Linked DNA regions of Homo sapiens: all the other regions are reported to be linked to region 1. The links are microRNA targets in miRTarBase. Many come from high-throughput screens and were not tested one by one. Region 1 holds a microRNA gene; each other region holds the end of a gene's coding sequence. Distances are from middle to middle.
What was found. The annotated mature microRNA hsa-miR-4433a-3p reads ACAGGAGUGGGGGUGGGACAU and lies in region 1 at 1,952-1,972, opposite strand. An mRNA with a match to its seed (bases 2 to 7 or 8) in the 3' UTR can be bound and repressed. Matches are read on the target gene's strand: a 7mer-m8 pairs with bases 2 to 8, a 7mer-A1 pairs with bases 2 to 7 and ends in A, and an 8mer does both.

Region 1 (3,115 bases):
TTAACTAATAATCACACACAGAAATAAAATCAAAACCATGAGTGGTGGTGCTTGGAGCCATAAGAGCTGGTAATGACTATACAGGGGTAGGCCTTCTTGAGGAAGTGACATTTACCTATGACCTAGATGAGTTTACTAGGGAAAGTTCATTAGGTAAAGATGAGAGGGGGAAAAATACCAGGCAGAGGAAGCACTATGTCCTCTGTGGCAGAAAGGATCATGGCAGGCATATTAGTCAGGACCCAGCCAGGAAAGCAAAACCCACTCTAGGTGATTTGATAGAGGGAATTTCATACGGGGAGTCAGAGGAGTTGAAAGAGCTCCCAGGGGAACCCTGAGAGTAGCAACTCCAGGAAGCTGGGACTACTGTATTTGTTTGCTAGGGCTGCAGTAACAAAGTGCCACAGACTGGGTGGCTTCACACAGAAAGTTATTGTCTCAGAGTTCTGAAGGCTGGAAGTCCAAAATCAAGGTGTCAGAAGGGGTAGTTCCTTTTGAGGCCTATGAGGGAAGGATCTGTTCCACGCCTCTTTCCTTGACTTGTAGATGACCATTTTCACCTATGTCTCTTCACATCGTCTTCCCTCTGTGTGTGTCTATCTCTGTCCAAACTTCCCCTTTTTATAAGGACAACATTCATATTGGATTAGGGTCCACCCTAATGACCTCACTTTAATTCGGCTACTCTATAAAGACCACAACCCTAAATAAGGTCACACTCTAAAGTACTGGGGGTTAGAACTTCAACACATGAACTTGCAGGGGAGACACAATTCAACCCATAGCACCACCCTGGAAGCTGGAGAACAAGGAAAGAAACAGTTTCTGGAGCCTAAGACAAGATAAGCTGGAACAAAGAGGGCCTGCCAAGATGGGTAGCAGGGATCACACAGAGATGGCTGTGTAGTGGGAACTGCAGCCACAGAAGAGACTCCTGAGAAAGAGAAGCAGGAGAAGTACTCTGGCTTCTCCTTCCTTCACCTCCAATATCTTTTGCCCTCCCTCACTCCCCATTGGCTGAACTTTACTGGAAGGCAGTTGGCTCTGGAGCCTGGAACAGCCCCCAGTGACACAGAGCAGATCGGGGGACCACGGGATGGGAAGGGTGGACATGGCTCTGACAGCAACAATGTAACACCCATGCAACGAGTCTGCGAGGCCGAATGGAAGCCAGCTGGCTGCAGGGGAGAGAGCAAGAGAGTCTGGCAGAAGGTGCACCTGGAGAAGGAAGTAGAGGCCAGGCCAGGTAGGAGTTTGGTCTGCATGCTAAGAGCCATAGAAATATCCAAAGGTTTTTAATAGAGCTGGGGGAGAGGCGGTGATGTGATCAGAGATGTGTTTTGAAAAGACCTATCTGGCTATGAAGTGGAGAGTGGGTTGAGGATAGTGGGGCAGATCAGTTAGAAGGCTACGCCTAAGAGAAAGCCTGTTTTACAAAAAGAGGGAGCTCCTGCTGCCCCTCTCTTTCCCTGGAGTTTTCATACCCTCCACGTGTACTAGACATGTGTATCTGCCAGTCAAAGCCACCCCTCCCCTGGTGCAGAGGCCCGCTCCAAGCTCTCATTGCCCAGTGTCCTTTTTCTAGATCCTCTCCTGGTTCACTTCCTTTCTCTCTGGGCAGTCCTTCCCATGCTGCAACACTGATTCTTCTTTTGTCACCCACCTGCTGCAAGGGGGGCCCTTGTCACCCATCTCACCCATCACTCTGGCTTAATGGTGCTGACTGAGTCCACGGCTTTGGTGGCCACCCATATGTTGCTGCTGCTTCTCAGATCTGTATTTCCAGACATGATTTCTCTCGTGAGAAAAATCAGCCTGCCAGATATCTCCACTGGAATGTCCAAAGGAATTGGAATCATGAGCTCAGCATGTCTAAAACTGAACACATTATCTTCCCCTCGCACGTGGACCCCTGTAACCTGCCCTTCATCCTGTGTTCCCTATCCTCCTTATGTCCCACCCCCACTCCTGTTTGAATATTTCACCAGAAACAGGAGTGGGGGGTGGGACGTAAGGAGGATGGGGGAAAGAACATCATCCTAAACTATTCCCTCTTACTCCCCCACATCCCATTGCTGTCCAAGTCCTGTTGGCTCTGTCCTAGATATCTGTCAAAATCCACTTTTCCTGCTACTTCCCTAGCCCAGGTCCTCATTTTTATGTGGGTTCATGCAGTGGTCTCCTAGCTGGCTTCCTGCCTCAAGCCTTGCCCTGGCCGGTCCACTTTTCCTACAATCAAAGTGACATCTACCAGTGTAAATAGATCATGTCCTTTCTCTGCTTAAAATCCCTTCAGTGATTTCTTATCGTCCTCAAGTCAAGTCTGATTACTATCTCTGCACAGTGCCCAGCCCACAATAAATGATTGGTGATTAAATGAATAAATGACAAACCAATATAGAAAAATTGCTAAGTGTGGAAATGAAGAAAAGATGCCATTTTTTTTCCCCTGGAAGTCTTTCCGACTGTCCAAGACTCAATCTGGATCTATCCTTGGGTGTGTTTGTATTGTACTTCTCACACTATACTAAACCCATCTACTTACCTGTCTGTTTCCTACTGGAATGTTCCTTGGTTGCTACTATATCTCTTAGCACAGCTCCTGGAAGAAAGTAAATGCTCAAAAAATATTTGATGAATGAATGAATGATAAGGAGAGCTCTGGGCTGGGGCTGACTATGAAATGCTTATTAGGAGCAGAGTGTGTCTGTCCTGGTTCCAAAGCACTGGGGGAACCAGGATGGGTAGAGAGGCTGAAGGCAAGCCCTTTAGGGGAAGGATAGCAGTGACGAAGGCTGAAAGATCAACAGCAATACATTTTTCTCAGGAGACTTCTTTGGGGCAGTGTTTTCTAAGCTGGGTTCCAGGGACCACTGGTCTTGCGAGATGCTCTATCTAGGGTTCTATATCAAATCAGCATGTAGAAACATGCAGCCCATACCCCTTGTGTACATCAGCATCTCAAAGAGTCTGAGAAGTCCTGCAGTTGAAAAACCAACACTTTAACCCTTTTAACTCAGTATTTCCTGAACTTATTCCATAAGTTTGAATATACAAAAATAAAGTTTTTTGCTTAATACTCAGCAACACCCCCTTCCACAAGATATACTGGAAT
Region 2 (3,115 bases), not on the chromosome of region 1:
ATCTTGTAATCCATACTGGAGAGAAACCTTACAAATGTAATGAGTGTGGCAAGAACTTCAGGCACAAATTTTCTCTAACCAATCATCAGAGAAGTCACACGGCGGAAAAACCTTACAAATGTAATGAATGTGGCAAGGTCTTTAGTCTGCTTTCATACCTTGCACGGCATCAAATAATTCATAGTACAGAGAAGCCCTACAAATGTAACGAATGTGGAAGAGCATTTCACAAGCGTCCGGGCCTTATGGCCCATCTTCTAATCCATACTGGAGAGAAACCTTACAAATGTAATGAATGTGACAAAGTCTTTGGGCGCAAATTATACCTAACCAACCATCAGAGAATTCATACTGGAGAGAGACCTTACAAGTGTAATGCATGTGGCAAGGTCTTCAATCAAAATCCACACCTTTCACGACATCGGAAAATTCATGCTGGAGAGAATTCACTGCGTACCTTACAGATGGAATGAATGTGGCAAAATCTTTAGTTAGAATTCACACCTAGCACAACATTGGAGGACTCAGGAGAAAAACCTTACAAATATCATAAATGTGGCAAAGAATTTAGTTTGCATTGAAGCCTCATCACTCATCTCTTGATCCACACTGAAAGGAAACCCTACAAATGTAAAGTTAATAACATATATAAATAATCTATAAAGAGAGAACAGTTATATCAGAATAGAGCATTTAATGAAAACTACCAGTATAGCATATTCTTGAGTAGGATTCACATTTAACTGCTGGCACCGTAATTTGTAACTCTTTGATTTAGAATGTACATACTTCTCATGTTTTAAGTAATAAAGTTTAAAGTTTTTTTTTAGTTTTTTCTTTTTTTTTTGAGACGAAGTCTCGCTGTATTACCCAGGCTGGAGTGCAGTGGCATGATCTTGGCTCACTGCAACCTCCGTCTCCCGGATTCAAGCAATTCTCCTGCCTCAGCCTCCTGAGTAGCTGGGATTACAGGCATGTGCCACTACTGCCCGGCTAATTTTTGTATTTTTAGTCGAGACGGGGTTTCCCTCCGTTGGCCAGGCCGGTTTCAAACTCCTGACCTCAAGTGATCCACTGGCCTTGGCCTCCCAAAGTGCTGGGATTATAGGTGTGAGCCACAGCGCCCGGCCTAGTTTAAATTTTTCTTAGTGTGAATGAATTACATCCTTTCTACCAGCGTTGTTTAATCTTACCTCAGGAGGATACTTTATAGTAGAGAATAATAACCCATTATGATTTTAAGGTTGAAGCAGCCAGAAAAGTGTGTGTGTGTGTATGTGTGTGAGACATAAAACAACATACGCTTCTGGGTGCAATATACTTAAGTAAGTATGATGTTGAGTAATTACACTTAGTACTTGAGTTAGTTTCTCTGTACTCTGGTGTAGGATGTTTATGTGGGTAAAGTCAAAATCACTTTAATAGTACAATTTCAGCCTTGTACACCCTCAAATGTGTGTGAGTGTTAAAGAGTATGCCCTGTATTGTGTTTCTACATGCCTCTTTCTTGTGTGCCAAATAAGAACTATGGTGTGCACCTTCATTTTCATGCAGCAAAAATATATAGTAATATGACAAATATTAGGAAATAAAGTATGGGTTGAGGGCAAAAATACTGTAACATGGCCGGGCCTGGTGGCTCACGCCTGTAATCTCAGCACTTTGGGAGGCTGCATTGGGTGGATCACGAGGTCAGGAGATTGAGGCCATCCTGGTCAACATGGTGAAACCTTGTCTCTACTAAAAATACAAAAAAAAAAAATTAGCTGGGCCTGGTGGTGTGCACCTGTAATCCCAGCTACTTGGGAGGCTGAGGCAGGAGAATCGCTTGAACCCAAGAGGCAGAGGTTGCAGTGAGCTGAGATCACCCCACTGCACTCCAGCCTGGTGACAGAGCAAGGCTCCGTCTCAAAAAAAAAAAAATAATAATAATACTGTAACACAATTTCTTTTTGTACTTCTAGTGTTCAGTGACATCATTTGAAAATATTAATGTTCACCCATCTTCTTTTTAAGTCACACACAGAAAGGGAATTTTGTTTTGGTACATTAACTAGAAACTTCATATAGTCACCCTCACAACTCTTTTGGTAATTTGAATTTTTGACCACTCTTCTGGAACTTGTTTGAAGTCCCCCTAAGGTTTGGCTTGGATCTTGAGAATGATGATCCCATACACTGATATGGTTTGAGAGTGTTTATTATATAATGAGGCTCTGTGGGGGAAAGCAGGGTATACTTTTCCAGCTGGTCCAAAAGTGGCTTCAGAGAACTGGGATAGGTGACTGGCTTGGGGTGTCATGATTGCTAAAGGGTAGGGCTGGGGCGGGGATACCCACTACCCATACTGGAAACTTAGTTACAATTCACACCTAGCATGTATATTTTTATATTTTTTGTATGTATATATATTTTTACATTTTTTTCCTACATTGCCTCCAAATTCTATGTTTAATACATTTCTTCCCTGTTTTGCTCTGGTGAAAACTTTAGGGGACAAATAAATGAGTGCTGTTTGGAGACAAAATTTTGTGACATGGGACTGGGCATTGTGGCGTGTGCCTGTAGTCCCAGCTACTTGGGAGGCTGAGATGGGAGGATCACTTGATGCCAGGAGGTCGAGGCTGCAGTCAGTGAGCTGTCTGCACTTCAGCCTGAAAGACAGAGGGAGACCATCTCAAAAAAAAAAAAAAAAAAAAAAAAAAAGTTGTGACCTGAGTATGTCCATAAGACAATGGCAGGTATACACTAGGATTAATATAAATATGAAAAAAAAAAAAAAACTTGGCCGGGTGCGGTGGCTCACGCCTGTAATCCCAACATTTTGGGAGGCCAAGGCAGGCGGATCACGAGGTCAGGAGTTCAAGACCAGCCTGGCCAACATGGAGAAACCCTGTCTCTATTAAAAGTACAAAAAAGTAGCCCGGTGTGGTGGTGGGCGCCTGTAATCCCAGCTACTCGGGAGACTGAGGCAGGAGAATCGCTTGAACCCAGGCGGCGGAGGTTGCAGTGAGCCGAGATCGCGCCACTTCACTCCAGCCTGGGCAAAAGAACGAAACTCTGTCTCCAAAAAAAAAAAAAAAAAAAAAAGGAAATTGCACATTCCGCCCTGGCA
Region 3 (3,000 bases), 37 Mb from region 1:
CTGGCTGTTGCCAGCTCTGCCCAGGCCAGCTGATCTTCTGTCCACCTCCCTCCCAACAGAGCGCTGCTCTTCTTGGGGCCCTCTCCCTCCTCAGATGGCTCCTCCTGTGTCTCTCATCCAGGCTCTGGGTGATCAGGAGAATGTGTGGGGCTGTACATGATGATGACCCTGATCAGAGCAGTGATGGCTGGGGAAGGTGTCAGGGAGGGATGCTGGAGAAGGCTGGGTTTTGGGTGTCAAGGATCCTGGACCACGAAGGGCTGCAATAGCAGCATTTCTCACTTCCCAATCTGTGTCTTGCAGAAGTGGCCGATGCGATCTCGTCTCTATGCTGGAGGCCTGGGGTACTCCGATCTTGACTCCACCACAGCCAGCACCCCCAGCCAAAGAACAAGAGATGCAGAGGTGGGGTCCCAAGTCCCTGGAGAGGCAGATGCTCTCCTTTCCACCACACCACTCTCACCAGCTCTTGGTGACAAATAATTATCACACTCGCCCTTTTCTCCTAGACTGTGACTCATGCTTATGGGCCTGGATTTTCTACCAGCCCCCAGATTCTCAGCCATCAGACTTGACTCAGACTCAGCTCCCAAGTTCCAGCATGCAGACCAAGAGAAGCAGTAGCACTTCTGTGATGGACAGTACCTAGAGGGGCACAGGTTGGAGAGCCTCCTCCTTGGTCCCCAGGAGGGGACTTCCCCATGGCTCTTCTGTGACAGCTACTGGGAAGTGGGAGAGAAAGAGGTATAATTGGGCTCAAAGTTGAGGTAGGGAACCACCCTAGCTTTCTTCCCCTAAGGTTTCTACAAACCCTCTGCAGATAGCAAAAAGGCAGGTGCAGAGGGAGGGGCCTGGGATGGCACCAGCCCCAGGTGCTGATGGGAAAGCCAGGTGGCCGGATAGGCTCCTGGTAGCTCCAAGTGTAAACAGATCTGGGCTGGGTCACACAGCCAGAGGGGAAACTGAAGAAGGAAATGTGCTTTCTAACTGCATCATGAGATGCTTACCTGATGTTAGAGAGATAGTGAGGAATTCAGGATTCCTCCCTCTGTAGTATGGGCCTTTCCAGAAGCTGCCCCTCACCACTACATTTTCTCTCCCTCTCGGCTCCTGCACTCTTCCACTCTTTTCTTTTCTTTTCTTTTCTTTTCGTTTCTTCTTCTTTTTATGTAGAGATGGGGGTCTTGATATGTTGCCCAGGCTGGCCTCGAACCCCTGGCCTCAAGTGATCCTCCCACCTCAGCCTCCTAAAGTGCTGGGATTACAGGCATGAGCCACCATGCCCAACCCCACTGTTTTCTTGACATGAGTTATATCTACAGGTTAAGCCATACATCTTGCATTGCTTACATTCCAGTTTCCAGAGAAACTTTTAGATAGTCCCAGATGCCTAGTTTGAGATCTTAACCAGAAGCAATTCTACCTTAATTGAACCAAGCAGCAACTTATGGCCTTAAATATGAAGGATATTGACAGAATCAATTACATCCTTGAAGGACCTTAAGAGAAGATCAGGTATATAGGGGGTGATCATTACAGTCTTCTCTTTCCATTATGTTAGAAACCTGCCCTCAAGCAAAAACAAGATAGGCCTGCCTTCAACTGCTCAACCACTCAATTGGCTCCTTGTAAAATTTGTGTTCGAGGCTTCCCTGGCTCTGGAGTTATTTCTATAGTCTATTAGCTCCCTAGGGCCGGCTCCGCCTCATGGAGATCGTCCTTGGGGGCTTTCTCTAAGTCCTACCATGGGGTGCCAGAAATGTGATATAGCTTCGGTGAAACTCATCTCTGGCCCTAAAGAAATAACTTGAGGACTAATCATAGAATCTACACACACTGAAAATAACTTTCCAGATCGGATGTAGCCTCAAACCTGGCACCTGAAGTCCAGATGGAACAAATTACCTTTCGGTTAAATTTCAGCCCTTCAGAGTGGGAGGGGACGGGCATGACCAACTAGAGTCCCAACAAGGTTATCCTTAGACACACACCATTGTTGTTATCATGAATGTAAGTGAGCTCTGGGCAGGCTGGGAATGGTTGGGGTCTGGGTTCTGGCATGACAGGACCCTGTACCTCCACAGGGCTGGCCAGGGCAGAGCTGAAATAGGGCTGGGGGTGCGACTGAGCCAGTTGTGGTAGAGGTAGAAAAAGAGACACAGAACATCCCAGCCCCGAGCTGCCTGGGATGTGGGAGAACAGCTGGAATGTGGATGGGAGCCATGGGGAGAAGGCCTCGGCCAAGGCTGAACTCGTAAATCTGCCTTGAACCACGTCTCTGCAGAGGGACCCTGAAGAGCTTGTGCAGAGCTGATGTGGGCAGCTGGACAGGGCCAGGCAGGGGCAGAGGCCAGGTGTGGGAGGGCATGAGCACAGTGTTCTTCACAAGACCATAAAAGTCCAGCTAGAATGTACTATTTTTAAAGCCAAACAGCAGTATCTTCCTGGTTGAGTTCACGGGAGTGCTAGGAAGAGAAGCAGATACATTTCCTCCTCAGTTGGTGGCACACTTTCCTGGGGATGAAGGGAAATTGGCTTGGGGTGTGTGTCGGGGTCCTCTGGATAGCATGGAGCTTCTCCTGATAATAGAGTAGACTTTGGGTTGGAGCTTGCCCCACCCTGTCCTGCTCAGACTCAGGCCTTTGCCTAGTAACATTAGAGCCCTCAGGGGTGACCGCATGGCCCTGGTGTAGACAAGGAGGGCACAGGAAGGATGACGCAGGTGGAGGGCTGCAGGAGGCAGGTCCCATCGCTACAAGTTTCTCAGGGTGTCTTGGGCCCTTTCCAGGCAAAGCTGTTCTCCTTTGTGCCCAGGACAGTCGAGGGGGGTGGGGCAGAGGCCATCTCCTCCAGCCACAGAGACCCAGCCCCGTCAGGCCAGCAAGCAAAGGGGCCTGGCAGGGGGCAGGGTGAGCCAAGGGAAGGCCTAGGGGATGGATGGGAATAACCAGAGGATGGACTGGGCCCTCCCTCCCTGACAAGCACAGTAATGCCCTTGAG
Region 4 (3,115 bases), not on the chromosome of region 1:
CCCTATATTCCCCACTAAGACCAGGAGTTACAATGCCCAGAGATCATGTTCTGTAAATATTCCTTGACTGAGAAAGGGTTAAACTATCTAATGCCTCCAAAATACTTCAATGCTGAAGAACAGCGCTTGTATAGCCCAAGTTCTTCTCTGCCTGAATCAACTTGTCCTCTAAAGCTTTGATGCCAGACTGGGATTCTGCTTAGGTAAGAGGCCTGCAGTACTGGGCTGACTCTTCACAATAGAAATACAAATCAGAAACAGATCACTTGAGGCACCCATTAGAAATGCACACGCCCAGGCTGCTGGGCAAACCACAAATCTGCTAACGCAGAAACTCTGATGGTGTGGGGCACAAGGACCTACACTTTCAGTAAGTGGCAGGGGCTGGGTGATTATTTGAGCCTCCTCTCATTTCCCCTCAAATCACCTTAGCAGGGGTCCTGTGAAATAGGGTTCATCAACAGGAACAGTGCCTGCGTCCTGGAGATGGCAGGAGCCCACATTTCTAAAGGACAGGAGCATGTGACTCTTAGCAGGAGGCAGACCTCAAGGCTGTCTCACTGCAGAGGCAGAAATGTGAATAACCAGTGAAGTGGTTCTCAAAGTCCAGTCCCTGCGCAGGCAACCGCAGCATCACCTGGGACCTTTTTGGAAACGCAAATTCTCAAGCCCCATCCCAGAGCTACCCAGAGTCAGAAACGCTGCGGGTGGGGCTGGTACCTGTTTTGACAAGACTCCAGGTGACTCTGATACCTGCTAAAGTGGGAGAACCACTGACACATGGAAGTGACAGCCAGGGAGGTGGGCGCCTGAGACCTCAGCACATCACTCCAAAGGCCTCTCAACATATCACTCCAACACTGAAGACACCTAAGAGATTCCTGCAAGTTTTTGTCAGAAAATTCTTCTCCCCTTCATGACTTTTGGCTTCCCCAGAGTAGCCCTGAGGGCCAACTCCCTTCCTGCTCCTTCTGTGGCCACTTCTTCCTTGAGAGTTGGTCTCTCCCACAGACAGCATTTCCCTGGAGATGCAGCACTGGGGACATGAAGCCCAAATTGGACTTTAGAGCAGAAGCTCTTGAAGTAAAAACTTCAGGAGGGAATATAATAAAAACCTGAGTTAAAAATCCTAGGCTTGTAGTCCCAGCTACTCGGGAGGCTGAGGCAGGAGAACTGCTTGAACCAGAGAGGCAGAAGTTGCAGTGAGCCGAGATCGTGCCACTGAACTCCAGCCTGGGCGACAGTGAGATTCTGTCTCAAAAAAAAAAAAAAATCCTAGGCATTCCTCTGAGTCATTAAAGAACAGTGGGCCATCAGCTGACAAGGGTGGGGAAATGGCTGATCCTGTGCCACTTCCTGCAGGTGGGCCCCAAATGAGAAGGAATGTGAGTGTGCTGGTGCAATGAGCACCGGGACAGCCCTCACCCTGCCCCTGCTCAAACACCACCTTGAATGTGGGCTTTCTCTTTATTATTAATGAAGGCTTACCTCCCCTCTACTAATGACCGTTGGGACAATTATGTGGGATCCTTAAGCAAATACCCAAATGGAATCTTAGACCTCCTAATTGTGAAGTCAGTCACAGGAAGCTGTCACTTGTGTTACTACTGGTCCATAATTGCTGGCTAGGGGAAAAAATGAGCCCAAACCCCAACTCCGGTTGTTGAAATAACAGCCAGATACTAGCTCAGGAGCTGAGCTATAGTCACCTTCCCCTTCCCCACCTTCCCCTCTTTGGAGAGTGAGCAATGGCAGTTCTGGGAACCAGCCCATGTGGATACCTGGACTATCACTTTTAGGCCAGAGATGGAGGGGAATGGCTAACAATTAGGTATTATTTGGGCAACACATTAGACAGAGAATACAGGACACAAGAAAAGCTGTGCTGACTTTAGCCTCTTGGTGCCCTAGAATTTTTGTCTTACTGCAATTAGGCTGGGCACAGTGGCTCACACCTGTAATCCCAGCACTTTGAGAGACTGAGGCAGGAGGATCGCTTGAGCCCAGGAGTTGAGACCAGCCTGGGTAACATGGCAAGACCTCATCTCTACAAATAATAAAGAAATTTAGATGGACGTGGTGGTGCATGCCTATAGCACCAGCTAATCTGGAAGCTGAGGTGGGAGGATCACCTGGGAGGTCGAGGCTGCAATGAGCCGTGATCTCACCACTGCACTCCATCCTGGGCAACAGAGTGAGATCCTGTCTCGAAAAAAATTAAAAAATAAATAGAATAACAAAGCAGTCTAGTCCCATGGAGAGATAGGAAGGATCCTCAAATGTGGAAGACCCTAACCCAGACAGGACTGTGGCTGTCTAACAAACACCAGTCTCAAAAAAAGCAAGCTTAAGAATGAACTTATTATAGTATCAATGCGGTGATTACAAATTACTCAATATTTCCTAAAGACCATGAGAACTCCAGAACCCATTCTTACACAGGCCCTGTGGAAGAATCCAAGCAGGAATAATTGGATTATTTCCAGCCAGTGACTTTCAGGAGGACCACATATCTTCAATGTCTTCACATTGTATCTGAAAAATGTATCTGAAGCACTCAAACACCAAGTCTACTCAAATACGCTTCCCAAGCAGCTTTTCTGTACATCTCTGCTGCTTCCAGACGATCAGCTGCTGAGATTATGCCACGACCTACAATGATGATATCGGAACCTCGTTTGCCAATAACTTCTTGTGGGCTATTGTACTGTTGGCCAAGATTATCTCCTGCAAGAAACACAAAAATTGTTGTTTCACATAATACAAAAATCAGAAAACCTGTCACATGACTTCTCTGAAAAAGTATCTAACCAGCTTTAAATAAAAACATGCCCCTACTTTCGTTCCCCTTTTGTACAGCAACTGCGTAAAAACAGGAGCTGAAGAGACTCACTGGGTAGGCCAGAGACGTCAAATGGAGAAAGATGATCACCAACTCCTTTTCAATGGTAAAGTTTATTTTATTTATTTATTTATTTATTTATTTTTATTTATTTATTTTTTTGAGACGGAGTCTCGCTCTGTCACCCAGGCTGGAGTGCAGTGGTGCTATCTCGGCTCACTGCAAGCTCTGCCTCCCAGGTTCATGCCATTCTCCTGCCTCAGCCTCCCGAGT

Region 2: miRTarBase lists ZNF610 as a target of hsa-miR-4433a-3p. Seed matches in the 3' UTR shown: 7mer-A1 at 950-956 and 8mer at 1,053-1,060.
Region 3: the mRNA of TCF23 is a reported target of hsa-miR-4433a-3p. Seed matches in the 3' UTR shown: 7mer-A1 at 2,577-2,583.
Region 4: the mRNA of UMPS is a reported target of hsa-miR-4433a-3p. Seed matches in the 3' UTR shown: 7mer-A1 at 2,497-2,503, 7mer-m8 at 2,005-2,011, 7mer-A1 at 1,688-1,694, 7mer-A1 at 1,093-1,099 and 7mer-m8 at 22-28.

The regions. Positions count from the first base shown.
Region 1 is chr2:64,339,666-64,342,780 of GRCh38, reverse strand. MIR4433A (microRNA 4433a) reads right to left here and starts at 2,022; the gene lies at 1,942-2,022. It overlaps MIR4433B (microRNA 4433b), which reads left to right and starts at 1,933; the gene lies at 1,933-2,034. It overlaps LOC105374768 (a long non-coding RNA gene), which reads left to right and starts at 1,072. Exons shown (of 3, transcript NR_189739.1): 1 at 1,072-1,246.
Region 2 is chr19:52,366,295-52,369,409 of GRCh38, forward strand. ZNF610 (zinc finger protein 610) reads left to right here. Exons shown (of 6, transcript NM_001161425.2): 6 at 1-1,484. The coding sequence ends at 473. It also overlaps a transcript of ZNF880 not described here. Among named protein-coding and RNA genes, the nearest start is that of ZNF880, 2.1 kb to the right of the region's middle.
Region 3 is chr2:27,152,385-27,155,384 of GRCh38, forward strand. TCF23 (transcription factor 23) reads left to right here. Exons shown (of 3, transcript NM_175769.3): 3 at 304-3,000. The coding sequence ends at 483. Among named protein-coding and RNA genes, the nearest start is that of TCF23, 4.9 kb to the left of the region's middle. RefSeq lists an enhancer at 530-589.
Region 4 is chr3:124,743,527-124,746,641 of GRCh38, reverse strand. It overlaps UMPS (uridine monophosphate synthetase), which reads right to left. Exons shown (of 6, transcript NM_000373.4): 6 at 1-2,727. The coding sequence ends at 2,558. Among named protein-coding and RNA genes, the nearest start is that of MIR544B, 13 kb to the right of the region's middle.